Homo sapiens: one gene and its partners. Each later gene encodes a partner of the first gene's protein in a complex. Each region holds a gene or a part of one and is shown in the gene's direction. Other genes may lie near its edges. The genes, in order: RANBP9, GID4 and ARMC8.

Region 1 (7,845 bases):
ACCCAGGGTTCCAACATAACAGGTGCTTCATAAATGCTGACTGAGAACTTTCCCAAACTTGGACCCTTTATTGCTATAGTTTACTAACATTGTTCAGCCATTTGTCATCCATTTGAATTTGCCACACTACGTGCAGAAATATGCTTACTCCATTCGTGTGGCATCAGGCTGCCTCGGACACTGGAGTGCAGCACGCATTGTGGGTAATAAAATGAATTTGTTGACTCCTAGGATTTCATTGCTAGTGACTTGGCTTTCATTTTTAGTGTTGAGAATGGTTTATAAGGAACGTTGATGTAATAGTCTGGAACAGGAATCACAAACTGAAGCCTGTAGGGCAAATCCAGGCTGCTCCCTATGTTTGTAAATAAAGTTTTGCGGGATCACAGCCATGCCCGTTTGTTTATGTATCATCTATGGTTACTTTCATTTACAATGGCAAAATTGAGTAGTTGCGACAGGTAACTATGTTCCGCAGAGCCTAAAATATTCACTATCTAACCTGTTACAGAAAAAGTTTGCTGATCCCTGGTCTAGAATCCATATTTGATGTGAATGTGGCAAGTGCAGTTCCCCAGGGTCACTGGAAGTTACAAGGACCCTGTATGAGTCAGTTTCCAAAGACGGCCTTCAATGATCCTCACCTTCTTGTGTTCATAGCCTTGTGTAATCCCCTCCCCTTGAATATGGGATGAAACTGATGACTCACTTCTAACAAACATATGGCAAAAGTGATGGGATGTCACTTCCGTGGTTGGGTTACAAAACACTGTAACTTTTGTCTTGCCACGATTGCCTTGGCTTGCATGCTTTCATGAAGCAAGCTGCCATGTTGAAGGTGCCCATGTGGCAAGGCATCATGGGCCACTTCTGGCCAATAGCCAACAAGAAACTGAATCCCTTAGTCCAGCAGCCCTCAAGGAACTGCATCAATGAGTGTGATAACCACATCAGTGAGTGTGAAAGTGGATTCTTCCCCAGTCAAGTCTTGAGATGACTGCAACCCCAACTGACACCTTTAATGCTCATGAGAGACCCTGAAGCAGAGGATCCAGTGAAGTTGTGCCAGATTCCTGACCCACAGAAAATGTGTGATAATAAACGTTATTTTAAGCCACTAAATTTGAGGATTATTTATTCTGCAGCCATAGATAACTAATCCAGACCCTAAAACCATACTATAGATCTTGGCACACATTGCCATAACATTTTCCAGTACTCAGAAGGATACTGTCATGGGCATTGACTGAAACAGGCTGGTCAGCATCTTACCTCTTTCCTAGTATCTTTCCTAGTATGGAAAATCCTCTACTGTGGGCACCAGTGGCCCTTTTCCACTAGGGCAATGTGTCCTAAACATTTTCATGTTATGCCATGCACAGAAAATAAGATGTGTATGGTACTCTGAATGCACAAGACTGCTCACTGTTGGAAGGGACCAGTTCTGGTGGCTGTAACCACTCAAGGCCCACCCTGAGCTGAAGTTATCAATAACGTAGCATCTCTGTAACCCAGTCACTGGATAACCTGGGAATCTCTGCTTGCTGGTGTATTCTGGCATGGGCACACAATCTAGGCTTGGTGACTTTGAAACTTGAGTGAGTGGTGTAAAGGCTGGAGGTCAGAGAGATAAGAGTCCAGGTGTTGAAGGTGACATCTGGCAGTGATTTCTGTGATCAGTGCTGGGGTCCAGGCCAGTCTATTTATGCAGCCTCTCCTCCTTTGGCCATTGTCAGTTTTCAGGCCTGCTTGTCCAGCCTTCTGGTCAATTCTGAGAACCATCTAATATCTTTCCAGTAAGTTCCTTTTTTGCTTAAGAGAGCCAGAATTGGTTCCTATTGTTCGATACTGAGAAACCCAGCAGATACAGATACTGGGTAATATTAGAGCAATACATGGTAAAGACTGAAAACATAGGTTCAAGAAGGGTGTGGATATGTTCATGGCTAATGGATTTTTACTATTTACATATCTATGTACAATTCTATTATTTTCATAATAAAAGTACATTACTTTTAATAATGCATTATAATTGTCCATTATGGAAACATTTTACAATTTTTCCTTCATGTCTTTTTGGTAATGATTTTGGCAGTGCTATAATTATCGTATTGCCTCTTTTCATTTAGCATATCATAATCATTTTTCTATGTCTTCAATAACATATTTTTAAGAGGCCATAAAATATTTGTTTCAGGCTGTGCCTGTGCAAGAAGCCTGGAGAGAGTGGGTCTGAAGGTGGGCCCAGGATCCACTAAGTCAAGAGGAAGGGGTGCCTTTTTCTAATTGGTTGACCTCTTTTGGCACTTCCACTGCCCAGAAGGGATACCTTAAAAAAAAATGGCACGAATGTGCTATATGTGCTCCTGTAGCATAACTCCACTGAGTGGGGTATGTGATTAGAATTTCACATGTGACTAGAATTTCTTCTAGTCTCTTCCGGTTGGGCATTTGATTTGCTTCTATATTTAATCTACCATTAATACTTCTTGTGGAACATTTTTCAGCCTAAAGTATTTTCATATTTAGATTGTGTTGTTTGGCTTTTTGATAGATAAGTCAAAAGGTATGAACTCCTTTATGTCTCCTTATAAATATAACCAAGTATGTAGCTTTCCAAAAGGACGTTATCAATGTTCTCTATCTCCTTCTATATGAGAAAGTACTCATTTCACAGCATCCTCCCCCACAACTGAAATCATTAATTTCTTGATGGAGAACCACCAGTCCCCCTTATAAAATGCTTCCAACAAAATGTTAGACAATTCTATTCCTTCAGCTGTTCCTAAGATACGGAAAGTTCTAGATAGTTCCTAAGTGTGCTGACAGAAAAAAAGTACATCTTCAAAAGTGTTTCAAGAAAGTTTAATGACGTCTGGAGCCCATTTATTCTAACATGGCTATCGTACATTTAAATAGAGCTTGGCTTACATTGAACTCATTGTTACTGTAATATAAATGAAAGTGTTAGAACACTGTAAATACAGTGACATCATGTGATTCAAAGTGCAGTGGTTTAAAAAAAGTCATCAAACAACAGGTTAAAATTAATGGATATTTCTATCAAACTACAACAGAGGCCAGGCATGGTGGCTCACGCCTGTAATCCCAGCACTTTGGGAGGCTGAGGCGGGTAGATCACTTGAGGTCGGGAGTTCGAGACCAGCCTGGCCAACATGGTGAAACCCCGTCTCCACTACAAGTACAAAAATTAGCTGGGTGTGAGCACATGCCTGTAGTCCCAGCTACTTGGGAGGCTGAGGCAGGAGAATCGCTTGAACCCGGGAGGCGGAAGTTGTAGTGAGCTGAGACCACACAACTGCACTCCAGCCTGGGCGACAAAACAATAATAATAATAATAATAAAAGTACAACAGAACATCTAGTTGTCTGGGTAACTGAGGGAGAAATTAGGCCGAATGACTCTGTTATTTGTTCTGGCCAGATAATCTTGGCCTTAAATTAAATCACCTTTGGCCTACCTTCTTCAAAACGAAATAATTTTCTCTTCGGCAAAACATTTCTTATTTGACCAAATGATTACCATCATATCTTTGGAAGCAAACAAAATATCAGAATTTACATCACACAATTTACATATGCAAAGCCTGATTTTGCCAGCTAGGGAGGGATAAGCTAAACAAAGGGAAGTGGTGAAAACAAAGTAGTAATGTTATGATGGGTCAGAGAGCAACACTTGGCAAGTTGTGCCAAATTAGTCGACGAAGCATTCTATTGGGAATTGCAAAGTAGGAAGTCCTATTTTTGACTCTGCTGATCTCGGTAAATATTTCCTTGTTTTAAAAATGGGCATAATTTTCTGTTACCTAAGAACCCTGTTATGAAAATTAACGAGTCTATAAAATGTTCTGACGTCTCTAGAAGCCCTTCCTAAACACACACTATAATCTTGTATTCATACAGTGCCTGCTCCTGCTTTTTGAAGATATGCCGGTCTTTATTAATGACATCTTCTACCACTGTTAAGTTCACTGTGAGTCCTCGTAAAATTAATTAATGAAACAGTCACTATTCTAAGTGGGAGACTGCCTTCAGAAGTGGTTTCTACTGCCCATATGGTCAATGCTACGGAATTAAACACTGAAGTACCAAAGGCAATGCGTTCCTCTTTGGAGGGAGGCGGCAAACGGGAACGGGACTGAGGCGAGAGCTAGCAGCACTGCGCGGGGAGCCTGAGCCGCTCCGCACGCCCCGGGCCGACGGGTCCTAGAGCGCCCCGGGGCCTGGGCTCGCGGCGGCCCCAGCGGGGCTCGATTACTCTCGCCTGGACGAGAAGCGGCGCCTCGGCTCCGAGGAGCCCTACGGTGGGGAGGTGGGGCGACGACAACAAAAAGAAGTCAAGTGGGAGGGGATTCGCCGGCGAGGGGGGCGACGGCGGCCGCCAAGGGAGAGGAGGCGGACACCTCCGAAGGGACCTGCGGCGCCGGGAGCCCAGCGATCCTGCCCACGAGCGACTGGCGGGCCCGGGAGGACGCCTCGCGGCGCACAGCCGGGAGCCCCGCGGCCCGCCCCCTCGCACCGCTCGCGCCTCTCTCGCGCCTCCGTCCCGCCCCCTCGCCTAGCGCCGCCCGCGCGCAGCGTCTCGCGCCGGCCCGGCCCGCCCGCCGGGAAACAGCCGCGAGAGCAGCGGCCGCGGCGGCCGCCAGCGCGCCTTCCCCTCCCGCGCTCCCGCGTCGCCCCCGCCCTCGGCGCCTCGTCCCCGGGCCGCGCGCCCGCGCTCCGGCCAACGTTCTCTCCCGGCCTCCCGGGCCCGCCGCCTACTCCCGCGTCTCCGAGCTCCTCAACCGCCGCGGTCTCCCTGGGCGCGCGGCCCGCCGCCTGCTTCCGGGGCGGGCGGACTGGGCGCCTGGTGCCGGCGGCCGCAGCGACAGCGCCCCCGGGAAGCAGAGGAGGAAGGAGAGAAGAGGTGGAGGTGGCCGCAGGCTGAGTCGCGGCCGGGATGTCCGGGCAGCCGCCGCCGCCGCCGCCGCAGCAGCAGCAACAGCAGCAGCAGCTGTCGCCGCCACCGCCGGCGGCCTTGGCCCCAGTCTCCGGAGTCGTCCTGCCGGCGCCCCCGGCCGTCAGCGCCGGCTCTTCTCCGGCCGGCTCGCCCGGCGGCGGTGCGGGCGGCGAAGGCTTAGGGGCCGCGGCGGCCGCCCTGCTCCTCCACCCTCCGCCGCCGCCGCCCCCGGCCACCGCGGCCCCGCCGCCCCCGCCGCCGCCCCCGCCTCCCCCTGCCTCAGCGGCTGCCCCCGCCAGCGGGCCGCCCGCTCCCCCGGGCCTTGCAGCGGGCCCCGGCCCGGCTGGAGGAGCCCCGACCCCAGCTCTGGTGGCGGGCAGCAGCGCCGCGGCCCCCTTCCCTCACGGGGACTCGGCCCTGAACGAGCAGGAGAAGGAGTTGCAGCGGCGGCTGAAGCGTCTCTACCCGGCCGTGGACGAACAAGAGACGCCGCTGCCTCGGTCCTGGAGCCCGAAGGACAAGTTCAGCTACATCGGCCTCTCTCAGAACAACCTGCGGGTGCACTACAAAGGTACTGGGCGTGTGTCCTGCGGTGGGAGTGGGGCACTGACCCGACGTGGCCGGCCGCCGCTGCGCCGCTCTCGACCCGCCCCCGACCCCCGCCCTCGCGGGCTCTGCCCTCGGAGGCCACTCGCCGCCTGTTGTGCTGCTCCGGGTGGGCGCGGGGGTCGCGGTGAAGGGTCCGAGGGTGAGGGGCGAGATTCTTGGAAAAGGAAGGTGAGTAGAATGCCCCAGGGTAGAAAGGAGCTGGTAATCCTAGACCAGGAGCAGGACACCTTGAGGGAATCCGGGATGACAGGACAGAACTGGCTTTCTGATTTCCCTGGGAGATAAATCTTGGGGCTTGGGTAGAGGAATCCATGGACTCGGAGTTGGGTTACATTGTTCTCCAGGTGGTGGGTCAGGCGTTCTCCTCTTACAAGGGGGGAAGAGAGGCACGATTCTGAGGTATGATTTCTAATTAAGAGAGAGCAGGGATACACAGGGGGAGGAGTAATCAAAATTAGGCCAGAGATTGTCTAGGGGGACAAAAGGACAAGGGGCCCAAGTTTGCCATCAATATATTTTAGTAAAAGCAACCGGGAGGGTAAGAGAAGGGAACCCCAGGAACACCCTTTTTCTTAGGGGAGCAGAAACCTACCCCTCCCGATTGGAAGTGCCCTATACAGGTCCTTAGGTGTTGATATCACATGAAGTCTTGTTGAAAACGAAGATGGAACAAAATGCAGCTTAGTATTTTGAAGAAAATTGGCTTATGTTTTGCACTTGCAGTTAAAAACAACAACCTTAGGCTTGTGCTTGCCCCTTTCCTCCCTCACCTACCTCTCCTAGGTTAAAACAAAGCTGGAAGCAAATCAGTTGTATATAAAATTATGAATTGCTATGGGAACTATTGAAATGTAGCCCAATTTAATAGCATGTATCAAGTTTACTTGTGTGGAAGAAAAAAAAATCAACCTAACGTATCAGTCTTGTCTGGAAACAAATCCAGGGTTTTAGGCCCCAAACCTAAAGCAGAAGCTTTTACATTCACGGCAGCCTCACTTTGATTGGCTGTAAAGGGGTCTACTCAGATCCTAGTGACATGTATGTAGAGGAGATAAACAACCTTGTGGTTAAATTCTTAACTTATACGGGACTGAAATTTGAGAAGAAGCTTGATAAGTAAGTTACTATTTAATCAGAAAGGCGAATGGCAATAGAAATCTACCAAATGATTTGGCTGCAAAGAATCACGCACAAAAATAGGCCTTGTTGAACATTCTTTTTATTCTCGCCATACATCCAAAGAAGTACTTCCAAGTGTTATCCTCCTTAATCTAAACGTCTGAACGTTTCATTCACAATATCAAATCTTTGTTTTTTCTCAAGTTAGGACCTTTTGTTAATTTCCTTGTGAAGTATTTCTACTTTTATGTTTTAATTTGTGTGAACGGTGCTATGTTATGAGGTGTTTACTTCTGATCTGGCTGCCAGAAAGCTATTGTTAGATGTGACAGAATTTTATAATTTTAAATTTATGGTTGACAGTAAATAATTTGCTCATAAAGTCAGAGCCAGTGTAGATGAACAAAGAATTCTAGATTTCCTGAGTTCTGCAGTTGTTTGTGGTTGTAGATATTTTACAAGACTGAGCCTCAGTTTCTTCCTCTGAGTGGTGTGTAAGTTGAGCTGGACGATTGGTAAGGAAATTTCCAGCTCTGAATTTCCGTGATGTCTAAGATTCGTGATTACTGTTTATTTAGTACTGTAAGGTGTCTTGATTAGTTTTAGTCTTTTACATAAAATTGATGATTAGGTCAGAGAAAAATACACGTTTATATGAAATTAGTTGGAGTTTGGAATATTTCTGACACTGCTGTCTCAGTTGTTTTTATTCTTGGCCTCTTTATTACTTTCTGTTGTGTAATACTAAGGTTCACTTTCTGGGAACATAACTGTTTTATAAACATAAATCATTATTTCTGGAAGAACAGATTTTGTTGTTATCCTTTTATTTTTCCTCTCTTCTATCTTTCCTTTGTCTCTCTCTTACCCCTTGTCAGAAAGTCTTTTTCCCTTTCTACTGCCTCTTCCTCTTGTCTTGTTACTGTAGACTGTGTGTGTGTGTGTGTGTGTGTGTGTGAGTTTTCCGTTGTTACTGTTGATTTTCTGCGTGTTTTGTGAGAGGACCACGCCGATTGTGGTGGGCAACTGTGTCCCAGTAGCAGTAGCAGTAGCAAAGGAGAAGTATCATAGAGAGTAGATAATACTTTAAAATCACAGAATAAGAAGAGTGAATTTTTATTTAACCTATCATTGTGCTGCATTGGTTTTACCTAAGTA
Region 2 (7,438 bases), on another chromosome or scaffold:
ACCTCGGCAACAGAGTGAGACTTCGTGTCAAAAAAAAAAAAAAAAGGAGATAAGTGTCAAAAAAAAAAAAAAGGAGCTAAATGGCCTCTTAGCTACCTCACATTCACAAACAAGCACAGCTTTTTTGTTTGTTTGTTTTAATTTTTATTTTAGGCTTGGGTGTACATGCGCAGGTTTGATCTATAGATAAACTTATGTCACGGTTTACCTATGTAACTGTTGTGGAGATTATTTTGTCACCCAGGTATTAAGCCTAGTACTGAATAGTTATTTCTTCTGCTCCTCTCCCTTCTCCTACCCTCTACCCTCAAGTAGGCCCCATTGTCTGTTCTTCCCTTCTTTTTTTTTTTGAGATGAAGTCTCGCTCTGTTGCCCAGGCTTGAGTGCAGTGGTGCAATATCTGCTCACTGCAACCTCTGCCTCCCAGGTTCAAGCAGTTCTCCTGCTCAGCTTCCCAGGTAGCATGTACCACCACACCAGGCTAAATTTTTTTTTGTACTTTTGGTAGAGATGGGGTTTCACCATGTTGGCTAGGCTGGTCTTGAACTCTTGACCTCAGGTGATTTGCCTGCCTCAGCCTCCCAAAGTGCTGGGATTACAGGCTTGAGCCTATTGTTTCCTTCTTTGAGCCCATGAGTTCTCATCATTTAGCTCCTACTTATAAGGGCAGTATTTGGTTTTCTGTTCCTGCATTAGTTTGCTAAGGATAACGGCCTCTAGCTCTACCCGTGTTCACGCAAAAGACATGATCTCATTTCTTTTTATGGCTTCATAGTATTCCTTGGTGTATATATACCACGTTTTCTTTATCCAATCTGTCATTGATGGGCATTTAGGTTGACCCACTTTTTACTATTGTGAATAGTGCTACAGTGAACATTTGCATGCATGTATCTTTATAGTAGAATGATTTATACTCCTCTGGGTGTATACCCAATAATGGGATTGCTGGGTCGAATGATAGTTCTGTTTTTAACTCTTTGAGGAATTGCCACATTGCAAAACGGAGCTTTAAAGTTTGTTTTCATGCCTTCTGGAAGTGAAATTCTAGAAATGTAAAGAATAAATATGAAATAACATTCTTTTTGCACTTTTGAGCCATCCGTCAGTCAAGAGAGGCGACCTTTCCGGGGAACCCAGCAGCTTTCAGGGGTTACCTGGGAGCCCAGCCTTTGGGGGCCATGGGCAGGCCCCCCACTTACTCATTACTTGGGTTTGGAAGGGTTGGAAGCTCCAGCTGAAGTTGTGCTAGACTTGTGCTTAACTAGGGAGACAGGTCACACCTACCAAAACTCACAAAAACAAAAGTGCCAGTTTTTGTCAGAGAATGAGATTCCTGTATGTTCCAGAAGTTCCTGTTGACTTATTGGCCAATTGAATGTTAATCCTCCAGAAGACAGGTCTACATGGAAAGTCGTGGTACCTATCACCACACAGTTTTGGGTGAGCCTGGAATCAGTGGGAGGATTAGTTGGGGGACTTAAATGTCTGACAACAGCCAGACCCACCAAGGGATGCCCACTCCTGCTTTTGCTGCCTCTGTTATTCATTTCTCGATATCCTTTCTTCTGACATGGTTTTTCGTCCGCTCTATAAATTACCCCTCATTGGGCTGTAATAAAGTGCTTGAATTTCCTGTTCCTGCTCTGAGAATATTTTATCTTTTCAGTGACTTCTGTACACACTGAATCTCATTTATTAGGTATTTATTTTATTTAATTCTCAAAGTTTGAGGGTACCCTGTAGTTACCCTGATATACTGCCTAAAGTATGTTTACAAAGAAGTCAATGCAGAATTATTCATTAAGAAAACTAGTGATTTAAACCATAAGTGTTTTAATCATATTAGGACCTCCTCCCCACCCCTCCCTTTTTTAAAAATAGAGACCGGGTCTTACTATGTTGCCCAAGCTGATCTTGATCTCCTAGGCTCAAGTGATCCTCCTGTCTTGGCCCCCTAGAGTGCTGGCATTACAGGTGTGAGCCACCAGGCTTGGCCTTGTATTAAAACCTCTTTATCATTTCATCCTATCCCTTTCAAGGAAGTTCAGAAAAAAGATTAAAGCTTGAAACTCGGAAAAATAATATAAACAGTTTGTAGTTGGCTGATGCCTGTAATCCCAGCACTTTGGGAGGCCGAGGCAGGTGGATCACGAGGTTAGGAGTTCAAGACCAGCCTGGCCAAGATGGTGAAACCCGTCTCTACTGAAAATACAAAAATTAGCCACACGTGGTGGTGGATACCTGTAATCCCAGCTACTCGGGAGGCTGAGACAGAGAATTGCTTGAACCCGGGAGGCGGAGGTTGCAGTGAGCCAAGGTTGTACCACTGCACACCAGCCTGGGCGACAGAGCGAGACTCCATCTCAAAAAAAAAAAAAATAGCTTCTAGTTTAAAATCTCAAATGCAGGTGCTGATTTATTGAGAACTTTTTTCCTTAGTAGTCTTTCCTAGAACAGATTATAATTAAAAGTTAGTTTATACCGGCTGGGTGCGGTGGCTCACGCCTGTAATCCCAGCACTTTGGGAGGCCGAGGCGGGTGGATCATGAGGTCAGGAGATCAAGACCGTCCTGGCTAACACCATGAAACCCTGTCTCTACTAAAAATACAAAAAATTAGACAGGCGTGGTGGCATGCATCTGTAATCCCAGCTACTTGGGAGGCTGAGGCAGGAGAATCACCTGAACCCGGGAGGCAGAGGTTGCAGTGAGCCGAGATCGTGCCACTGCATTCCGGTCTGGGCGACAGAGCAAGACTCTGTCCCTCCCCCCAAAAAAAAAAAAAAAAGTTAGCTTATACCTTAAAAATTAGGTTTACATTTAGGAAAATTTCTCCTCTCTCATTTTTTCAGTCTATGTATTTAAATATTTATGTGAAGAATCCAGCAACAGTGTTAGGATAGGGGGGTTGTGGGTTTGGGGCAGTATTAGATTTATCATATTTTAAGTTCACTGTTAAGGAAACAGATCCCCTCCATGGTGTCATCCTAAAGCAGGCCTCCTGAGCCACCTGCAGCGGTGGTGACGTTCTGTTTCCTGGGAGCCTCTGCACCAGTGGCTTTTACTGTGGCAGCCTCTCTCAGGAAGGTCCTACACTACATGCAGGCCAGGTTGGTAGATGTGGCAAAGCCATCAGAATGAGGTTTTTGATGCAGAATAAGAGGGGCTTACATCTGATCTGAAGGAAAAACGTGGGCCTTCTGCAGTCCTTGATGTTAGGACTGTAATCTGTGGTTTTCCAGGCCAGTGACTCTCATAACCATGCTCCTGGCAGACACCAGGGGCTTGGCAAGGTAGCCTGAGAGGTGGGTGCTTGGTTGGTTTCTACAAATGCAGAGAAATGTAGACTTTTTACGGTGTTAACTTTTTGTCTTATTAATCTTTTTTAAAATCATTGGTGCCTACTTATTAACACATGAACAAAGAGCAATTAACAAAGCACCCAAGCCAGCACATGGCTTCTTGCTTACGTTTTCCACGGTGTGGTTTTTACATTCAGACATGATTTACATATGTTTTTCCTCATATAAATTGTTTTTAGTTCATATGTTTTTCCTCATATAAGTTGTTCTTAGTTCATGTGACAGAATTAAACGTATCCCTATGTATCAAGGTATTCTAAGACTACCTTCAGGGACCATTTGTATAGTTCATTACTAGAAGTTTCTCTGAACATGTAGAACACTGAAAAAAGTATTTACTTTTTTTTTTTTTTTTTTTTTTTGAGACAGAGTTTCACTCTTATTGCCCAGGCTGGAGTGCAATGGCGTGATCTCGGCTTACTGCAAACTCCGCCTCCAGGTTCAAGCAATCTCCTGCCTCAGCCTCCCGAGTAGGTGGGATTACAGGCATGCGCCACCACGCCCGGCTAATTTTGTATTTTTAGTAGAGATGAGGTTTCTCCATGTTGGTCAGGTTGGTCTTGAACTCCTGACCTCAGGTGATCCTCCCACCTCGGCCTCCCAAAGTGCTGGGATTACAGGCGTGAGCCACCATGCCTGGCCAAAATAAAAGGTATTTTAGGCTGGGTGCGGTGGCTCACACCTGTAATCCTCGCACTTTGGGAGGCCAAGGCGGGTGGATCACCTGAGGTCAGGAGTTCGAGACCAGCCTGGCCAACATGGCGAAACCCCGTCTCTACTAAAAATACAAACATTAGGTGGGCGTGGTGGCAGCCAACTGTAATCCCAACTACTCGGGAGGCTGAGGTAGGAGAATCACATAAACCCAGGGTGTGGGAGGAGGTTGCAGTGAACCGAAATTGTGCCATTGCACTCCAGCCTGGGCGACAGAGCAAGACTCTGTCTCAGGAAAAATAAAAAAGTATTCTACCCCAGAATCCACCCTGGAACCTTGGAGAATTGGTGTAAAAGGGACAAATGACTGAGCCAGTTGGAGAACCAGTGGCTTGAGGGAGCCTTAGTGGTAGACACAGTGATTTTGGAGCCTCTTTGGGTCTAACCTTGGAAAGTAAAATCTACCAAGTTATGATCTGCTTTGTATGCTAGAATATTAAAAATTTATTTGTGGAAACATCCAAATTATTTTCTAAGAGACTAGCATGTAACAATTGAAGTCAAAGAAGGGCTGTCTGCTGCTGGCAAAATCCAGGAAACCCTTCATTCTCTGGGTGATTTAGATTCAGGTCCATTGCCACAGCCTGTTGGCAAACTGGCTGCGATCTAACTCTGGTTTGGATTGTCAGGTAGCAGTGTCTAGGTACTGGAAAGAAGTTAAAGCAAAGTTTATTTTTCCTTTGTACAAAGGTTAAAAACTCTCACTCAACATCTTATTTTGATATTTGGGTTTTTACCATAGGAGTATCCAACCCTTACAACCTTCTTCGAAGGAGAAATAATCAGCAAAAAACACCCTTTCTTAACTCGCAAGTGGGATGCAGATGAAGATGTTGATCGGAAACACTGGGTGAGTAAATCTGATCTGTGCTGGGTCATCTAGGGGCTGCTAGAGAATTGAAGAAATGCTGGGAGCCAGAGACCTTGTCCCTTATTGAGGATTACTGGGGCTTTGCAACCAAGTAAAAGGTTGCACTGCACACAGACCTCAGTTGTTCCATCTTCCTTATGAGGACAGTTTAAATACGATCTGACCTGCTGCTTAAATAGCAAATGGTTGTCTGATGATAGCAACCCCAGAGTTCCAGCCAGAACTCTGCTCAGCTATCAGAATCTTAACAGTGTCCCCCCATCCTTCCCACCTGTTTGTCCATCTTCTGTCCACTGTTCCTTTCAAATCACCTCTGCTTGGGGAAAACCCTGTGAAACATGCAATGATGACCTCCGGCTTCGGGGCTGGCATGAGATGGAGATGATGTTGTGGGAATCTGCCTGCCCACTGGCTTATCAGGGCAGAGCCACATCATTTCTTTTTATCCTGGCTGCTGACAGACAAGTATAGTCTTGTCTTAAGTACACCACTATAAATCCTGCTGCCCCCCTTTTTAACTGTCAAGTGTAGAGCATTCTCACTCAGCAGTAGTGAATGCTTCAAGACAGTTAGTGTCCTGGGATCTTTTCATTTGTTGTCATATAAGTACCATGTCTTCAAAAATCAGTGTCTCGGCTGGGCGCGTTGGCTTGCGCCTGTAATCCCAGCACTTTGGGAGGCCGAGGCGGGCGGATCACCAGGTCAGGAGATTGAGACCATCCTGGCTAACACGGTGAAACCTCGTCTCTACCAAAAATACAAAAAATTAGCTGGGCGTGGTGGTGGGCACCCGTAGTCCCAGCTACTCTGGAGGCTGAGGCAGGAGAATGGCGTGAACCCAGGAGGCGGAGCTTGCAGTGAGCCGAGATTGTGCCACTGCGCTCCAGCCTGAGCAACAGAGTGAGACTCCGTCTCAAAAAAAAAAAAAAAAAAATCATTTTCTCAACCTAATAGCCTTTTGCTTTAGTTGACCATGGTGATGGTGAATTTTTGTTTAACATTGAAGAAGTTCAATGGGTTTACCCTCCATAAACCAACCAGAAATGGCTGTGTCAGTAGCAAAGATTCTAGAACTCGTTCTTCCCATTGCCTCTCACACCTGGCTATCTAAACTCTCCCCTGGTTCTGGCACAGCAGTCTGTGGAGAGAACTCCCGCAGACCCTTGTCTTGAGTTCACCTCACTAGAGATCAGTTGCTTTGCTTACTAATGTTTTTTATTTGTTTATTTTATTTAAAAAAAATTTTTTTTAGAGTTGGGGTCTTGCTCTGTCGTCTATGCTGGAGTGCAGTGGCATGATTATAGCTCACTATAGCCTCAACCTCCTGGGCTCAAGTAATCCTCCCACCTCCGCGCCCCAAGTAGCTAGAACTACAGGCACGTGCCACCACACTGAGCTCATTTTCTTTTATTTTTGTAGAGACAGAGTCTCCCTATGTTACCCAGGCTGGTCTTGAACTCATGATCTTAAGTGATCCTCTTGCCTTGTCCTCCCAAAGTGCTGGGATTATAGGTGTGAGCCACTGACCCAACCTGTTTTTTTGGTTTTTCTTTTATGGGGGTTTTTGTTTTGTTTTGTTCTGTTTTGTTTGGTTTGGTTTTGAGACAGAGTCTCAGTCTGTCACCCAGGCTGGAGTGCAGTGGCGTAATCTCGGCTCACTGCAACCTCTGCTCACTGCAACCTCCGCCTCCCAGATTCAAGTGATTCTCATCTCTCAGCCTCTCAAGTAGCTGGGATTACAGACGTGCACCACCGTGCCTGGCTAATTTTTGTATTTTTAGTAGAGACAAGGTTTCGCCATGTTGGCCAGGCTGGTCTTGAACTCCAGGCCTCAAGTAATCCTCCTGCCTTGGCCTCCCAAAGTGCTGGGATTACAGGCGTGAGCCACCATGCCCAGCCCCAAGCTGTTTTTTACTTGAGTAAAAAAAGGAGATCTATCAAATACTGAGGTTCAGTTAAATTTAAATTTAAACTTGAGCTTTTTAAAGCGTTTTTTGAATTCTATACATTTTGATTGTTGTAGCAAATGGACACTAAAAACTAGACAGTCATTTGTGTCTCTCTGTGATACAAGAGAATGCACAAGACCTGAGTATCCAGAAGGTTGGGGGAGCCCAAGTGGTGTATGAAGGTGCTGGCCACCAGCAGGTGGAGTTGGAAGGGCTCCCTAGTACCATCTGCGCCCACCCCTGCCCAGGGCTAGGCTCTTCCTGCATGGCTTGCTGCCTCACGAGATGGCTCCTTCCTCTCCTGTACAGTCCCAGAGTAGAAGGTTCTTCCTTGTAGTAAACCACAGCCTCTCTCCCATTCAACTCTATTTTCCATTTCATATTGGTCCTGCAAAAAGCAAAGTCTTTGAGGCCCAGTGACACTCAGTTTTAGGCTAGGTTGACTACAAATTAAATACTTGGAAAGCAACTCTTAATTTTCCCATTGACTTCCGTTAGAACATTGGAAGATATCTGGATCTGCAGACTCTGCTAGACTGG
Region 3 (4,011 bases), on another chromosome or scaffold:
GGCTGGAGTGCAATGGCACCATCTCAGCTCACTGCAACCTCCACCCACCAGGTTCAGGCCATTCTCCTGGCTCAGCCTCCGAAGTGGTTGGGATTACAGGTGCCCGCTGCCACACTCGGCTAATTTTTGTATTTTTGGTAGAAACAGGGTTTCACCGTGTTGGCCAGGCTGGTCTTGAATTCCTGACCTCAGGTGATCTGCCCTCCTCAGCCTCCCAAAGTGCTGGAATTACAGGTGTGAGCCACAGCACCCGGCCTACATTCTATCTTTTCCTTTCCACCTGGCCACCTTCTTCCCCCATCACCGTAACAACACACATCTCACATTGATCAGTTATGGTGTCATCAGGTGTGATGAGAAGAACAAGATGAAATTGTAGCCTTCTTCCACGGTTCTGAGGCATGTGAAGCATAAGACAGCCTCATCCCATGGGCTCTTGGCCCCTTCCATGCACCTTCTAATCACCTCAACACCATTTCCTCGGTCAGTTTTCTTATTTGCTTCCCAGAACCCTAAGTGTTCTCCCTAGTGTTGTGCCTCACTGCATAAAACCTACATGGCAGTAAGAAAAAGTAAAGAATGTAAGACCTATCACAACTATATGCCAGTGACAAAAGAAAACATAGAATGTCAGCACATACCAGGGACTGTGGAATGTCACTGAGCTGCAGCAGGTTTAAGTGCAGGAACAGCCCTCTGAGAGATCCACAGGAAGAAGAATATAGCCAGAGTAGATTTCAGGTGTCTACCCACTGCAGATCTCTTCCCCTTAAGGTAGGTGCCCACCTGGGCTCACCCCAATTCCCTCTGGAGATTTACTTTTTTAGACTTCCCCAGCTATCATCATTGAACCATAGGGTTTTTTACCCCAATTACAATTCTGAGATGATGGCTAACAGGAATTTTGTGATTTCAGGGCAAAGATGGCACTGCAGCAGTACCTGGCATGATGGGAGTGCCCCTGGGCACCTGCGAGCATCCCACCTCCTTGTTTAAGGAAGTACAGGAACCAGCCTCATTTGATTCCTTCTATTTGCACAAGTCACCTTGGACTGCAGGGAGCTGTTTTGCAAAAGCAGTTTAGTAGGCTTAGATCTCAAATTCATCTTGAGAACATTTTTTTGAGGTAGTAATTTCCTCAGAAGACTCTTGTGTTTTGTTTTGGTTTTTTTTTCTGAGCTACTCGGACTCTTTATTAGAACAATCAATCATTTTCCTTTGGACCTACAATTTTTGCCTATGCTGCAGCCACTTTGTGAGTGAGAATGAATATGTCTGTGTGAACACACAGGCATGCGTGTGTATGTGCACGTACATGGGCCAGAATGAATGGATGTGTGTGTGTGAGGGATACCTCAGATTTTTCTTTTCTTATTTTGTGTGAAAATCTCTTTTCTACAGATTTTCCAGGGTTTAAGCATTGCTTGCTGTATAAAAAACTTTACTGAATTATATACAGTTTGAATGAAATGTTATTTTAAAAACAAAACAATTGTTAAGTGTTCCATAAAGGTTATGTTGAATTTTGGTCAGATGAATATTTGTAAGTAAAAAATATATGCATTTCTGAACCTCAACTTACATAGATTTTCTTTATATAAAAAAAAAGAAAAAAAAAGAAAAAGTTGGCTATAGTTGGCCTGATTAACAGGCACTATACATGGTGCTGTGCAAAATAGTAAGCTAGCATCTTACTGCCGTCAATATTAGCAGGTACAGAGCCTTTTTTCATCCTAATTCAGTAAGTTCTCAGGCTTCCAAGTCAAATGGAGAAGTAAAGTGAGGCAACAGATTCACCATAGGCTTTTTGAAGCATCAAAGGGAAATATAACTACTGATAGTGAAAGCCCAGCCATGACCCAGATGGGCTTACCCTTGACAGGAACTGGGGACCAAGAGCCTCCCAATTGCCCTAACTCCTGTCATTGGTATTAGCAATATCTGGCCAGATTTAGAACCAGTCATGGAAACTTGTGCTCAAACTAAAAGTAGGTCATCACTTCCCAGAAACAGAATACCTTGTGCTTCCTGAAACAGCATATATCACTGTGAAACTAAAGAATATTCTACAGACACCCCTGTAGAAAGAAACAAAGAACAGGATAGTTTAGAAAGCTTTCTGTTAGCTGTATTCAGCAAATTTCATACTAGTTGCTCAGGACTGCTAGTTGGTATGCTTTTGTAAAACGAGATTGAAATTTAATAAAAGATGCAACTAAAATCTTTCCTGCATGAAGCTAAAAGCACTCAAGTTGAGAGAGGGGCAAGGGAATCTCCCCAGGATGACTGAAGATGACTTCTTTTTACAGCAAGTACTGTTAGCCTTTCTGCACCCCTTAGCTTGGCCCCTGCTCCAACTTCTGGGTCAGCAGCAAGGTGAACTCAACAGAAGTTGCTCTTGACTGTTTGAAGGTAGAAGCAGCCTACCTTTTCTCTTTGCTAAAAGAAGGTCAAAGGCTTCGCAACCAGGATGCAAGGTCTGCGGTCCAGAAGCTTGCGGTGAGTGTGTGCCACTGATGGAGCTCCAAGCCCACCCACCAGCCACTCCTGATGGGGTTGCTCACACTGCAGCTGCCCTATCACCACCCTGCACGTTCCTTGGAAGATTTAAATGTTTGGTTGCAAATGAATGTTTTAAAAATGTATTTAATGCAATTTTTCCTGCTCTCAACATGACCACCCAAGATTCAAACACAGAGACTTCCAAGTTACTATTTTTTCAGAACATCACCGATTTTAAAATCTGTCACAACAGGACTTGGTTTTGTGCAGATATCAGAGTGCTAATGTGAGAAACCCAGTTAAAAGAAAACTTAGTTTATTGGGAAGAAAGCCTCAGGCCCACTCGTTTCTAGAACTGTGAAAATATCCTTGGTTGGCATTTTTAACACAAAACACTATAGTGTTGGTATTAAATAGTACTAGGTAAATATAAAGAAACCAATAATGAATTGCTGAGACAATCTTGAACCCAAATAGCATTAGAAAGCTGAAGGCCCAATGAAATAACACTTTCACACTTAAACTCTGTGGATAAATTTTGCCTGTGGGTATAAACAGATGGTCAAATTAAAAATGCTTTACTATAATTAACTTTTCTGATTTGAATGAAGGGAAATGTATTTATTGAAACAAAGCTGTTTGCTGCTTTATGCAGGTGCAGTGTTCAGTCAGCAAGGAAGTGGGAAGAGTGGACATGGTATTGTGTCTACACCCAAGTTCTTAACTAAGCTTCTCGCTCTAATACTGCATTCTGTTTCTCCTTTTGTGCCCTGATTGTAATCCAAAATTTATGAACTAGAAAAGAATGTCCAATTTAATAAGTTGCATTTTTTTTTCTTTAAGCACTTTATTCAGAACAATACATGTTCTTCTGGTAGTGTTTGGATAATATGATTTTAACACATGCTAATAAAAGCCAAGAAAAATCATGGCAACTTCTAAAAAGGAGTCTGTTTTCCAAATGTCTAGAACATTAGGAAACATCAGAAGATAATGTGTACACGCTTTTGGAACCTGTGATTCTTGGTAAATGAAGGGCTGGGAAGTGGCTTTGCATTTCAGAGTGGGACCCAGTGCCTTAAGGTAAGTGTGGTTCCCAGAGGCATCTGCAGCAGTCTGGGGACCCCTCTCTTTTTGGCCTCCTTCTGAAGGCCAGCAGACCCTTCACAGGTGGCCACTCCCAGCCACAAGATATCCCATCCCCAATATCATGTCCACCCCCTCCATCCTCTTCTCCTTAGGTATGCCCCATCTCCACTACCACCAGCTTGCATCTCCACTACCACAGTATGCAAGAGCTTGCTATCCCTCTGCAAGGACACACAGGTGCTCTTCGTCTACTACGCACTGCCACCTTTTCCCATCTCTGAATTGTAGGCACATCTCCTATCTCAAGGCCTCACTGGAAACAAAGCCAAGGACACCTGCGCCAGAGTGGCGGGAGGATGATGAGGTGGCTAGCAAGAGAGGGAATAATCATGGTGGGAACCTCTGAGAGGACCCAAGGTA

Evidence for each region.
Region 2: the proteins of RANBP9 (region 1) and GID4 are in contact, whole or in part, in a cryo-EM structure (PDB 7NSC), measured with the Homo sapiens proteins. Residues at the interface, in NP_005484.2 of Homo sapiens: Ser223, Lys224, Gly225, Arg226, Asp227, Gly228, Tyr229, Met230, Gly256, Asp257, Thr274, Phe275, Thr276, Thr277; in NP_076957.3 of Homo sapiens: Leu187 (codon at 4,881), Arg189 (codon at 4,887), Asp194 (codon at 4,902), Glu195 (codon at 4,905), Asn216, Asp218.
Region 3: the proteins of RANBP9 (region 1) and ARMC8 are in contact, whole or in part, in a cryo-EM structure (PDB 7NSC), measured with the Homo sapiens proteins. Residues at the interface, in NP_005484.2 of Homo sapiens: Tyr271, Gly298, His299, Ser300, Leu301, Gly302, Ile303, Asp337, Asp340, Tyr341, Arg343, Glu344, Thr347; in NP_001350870.1 of Homo sapiens: Gln245, Arg246, Asp247, Val277, Leu278, Lys279, Ile317, Ile320, Thr321, Asp322, His323.

The regions. Positions count from the first base shown.
Region 1 is NC_000006.12:13,708,620-13,716,464, reverse strand, and holds the start of RANBP9 (ran-binding protein 9), read left to right. Parts: upstream 1-4,629; 5' UTR 4,630-4,959; coding exon 4,960-5,530; intron 5,531-7,845. UniProt on the Homo sapiens protein: May act as scaffolding protein, and as adapter protein to couple membrane receptors to intracellular signaling pathways. Acts as a mediator of cell spreading and actin cytoskeleton rearrangement.
Region 2 is NC_000017.11:18,049,307-18,056,744, forward strand, and holds part of GID4 (glucose-induced degradation protein 4 homolog), read left to right. Parts: intron 1-4,820; coding exon 4,821-4,928; intron 4,929-7,396; coding exon of another isoform or gene 7,397-7,438.
Region 3 is NC_000003.12:138,294,943-138,298,953, forward strand, and holds the end of ARMC8 (armadillo repeat-containing protein 8), read left to right. Parts: intron 1-916; coding exon 917-950; 3' UTR 951-3,431; downstream 3,432-4,011. UniProt on the Homo sapiens protein: Component of the CTLH E3 ubiquitin-protein ligase complex that selectively accepts ubiquitin from UBE2H and mediates ubiquitination and subsequent proteasomal degradation of the transcription factor HBP1.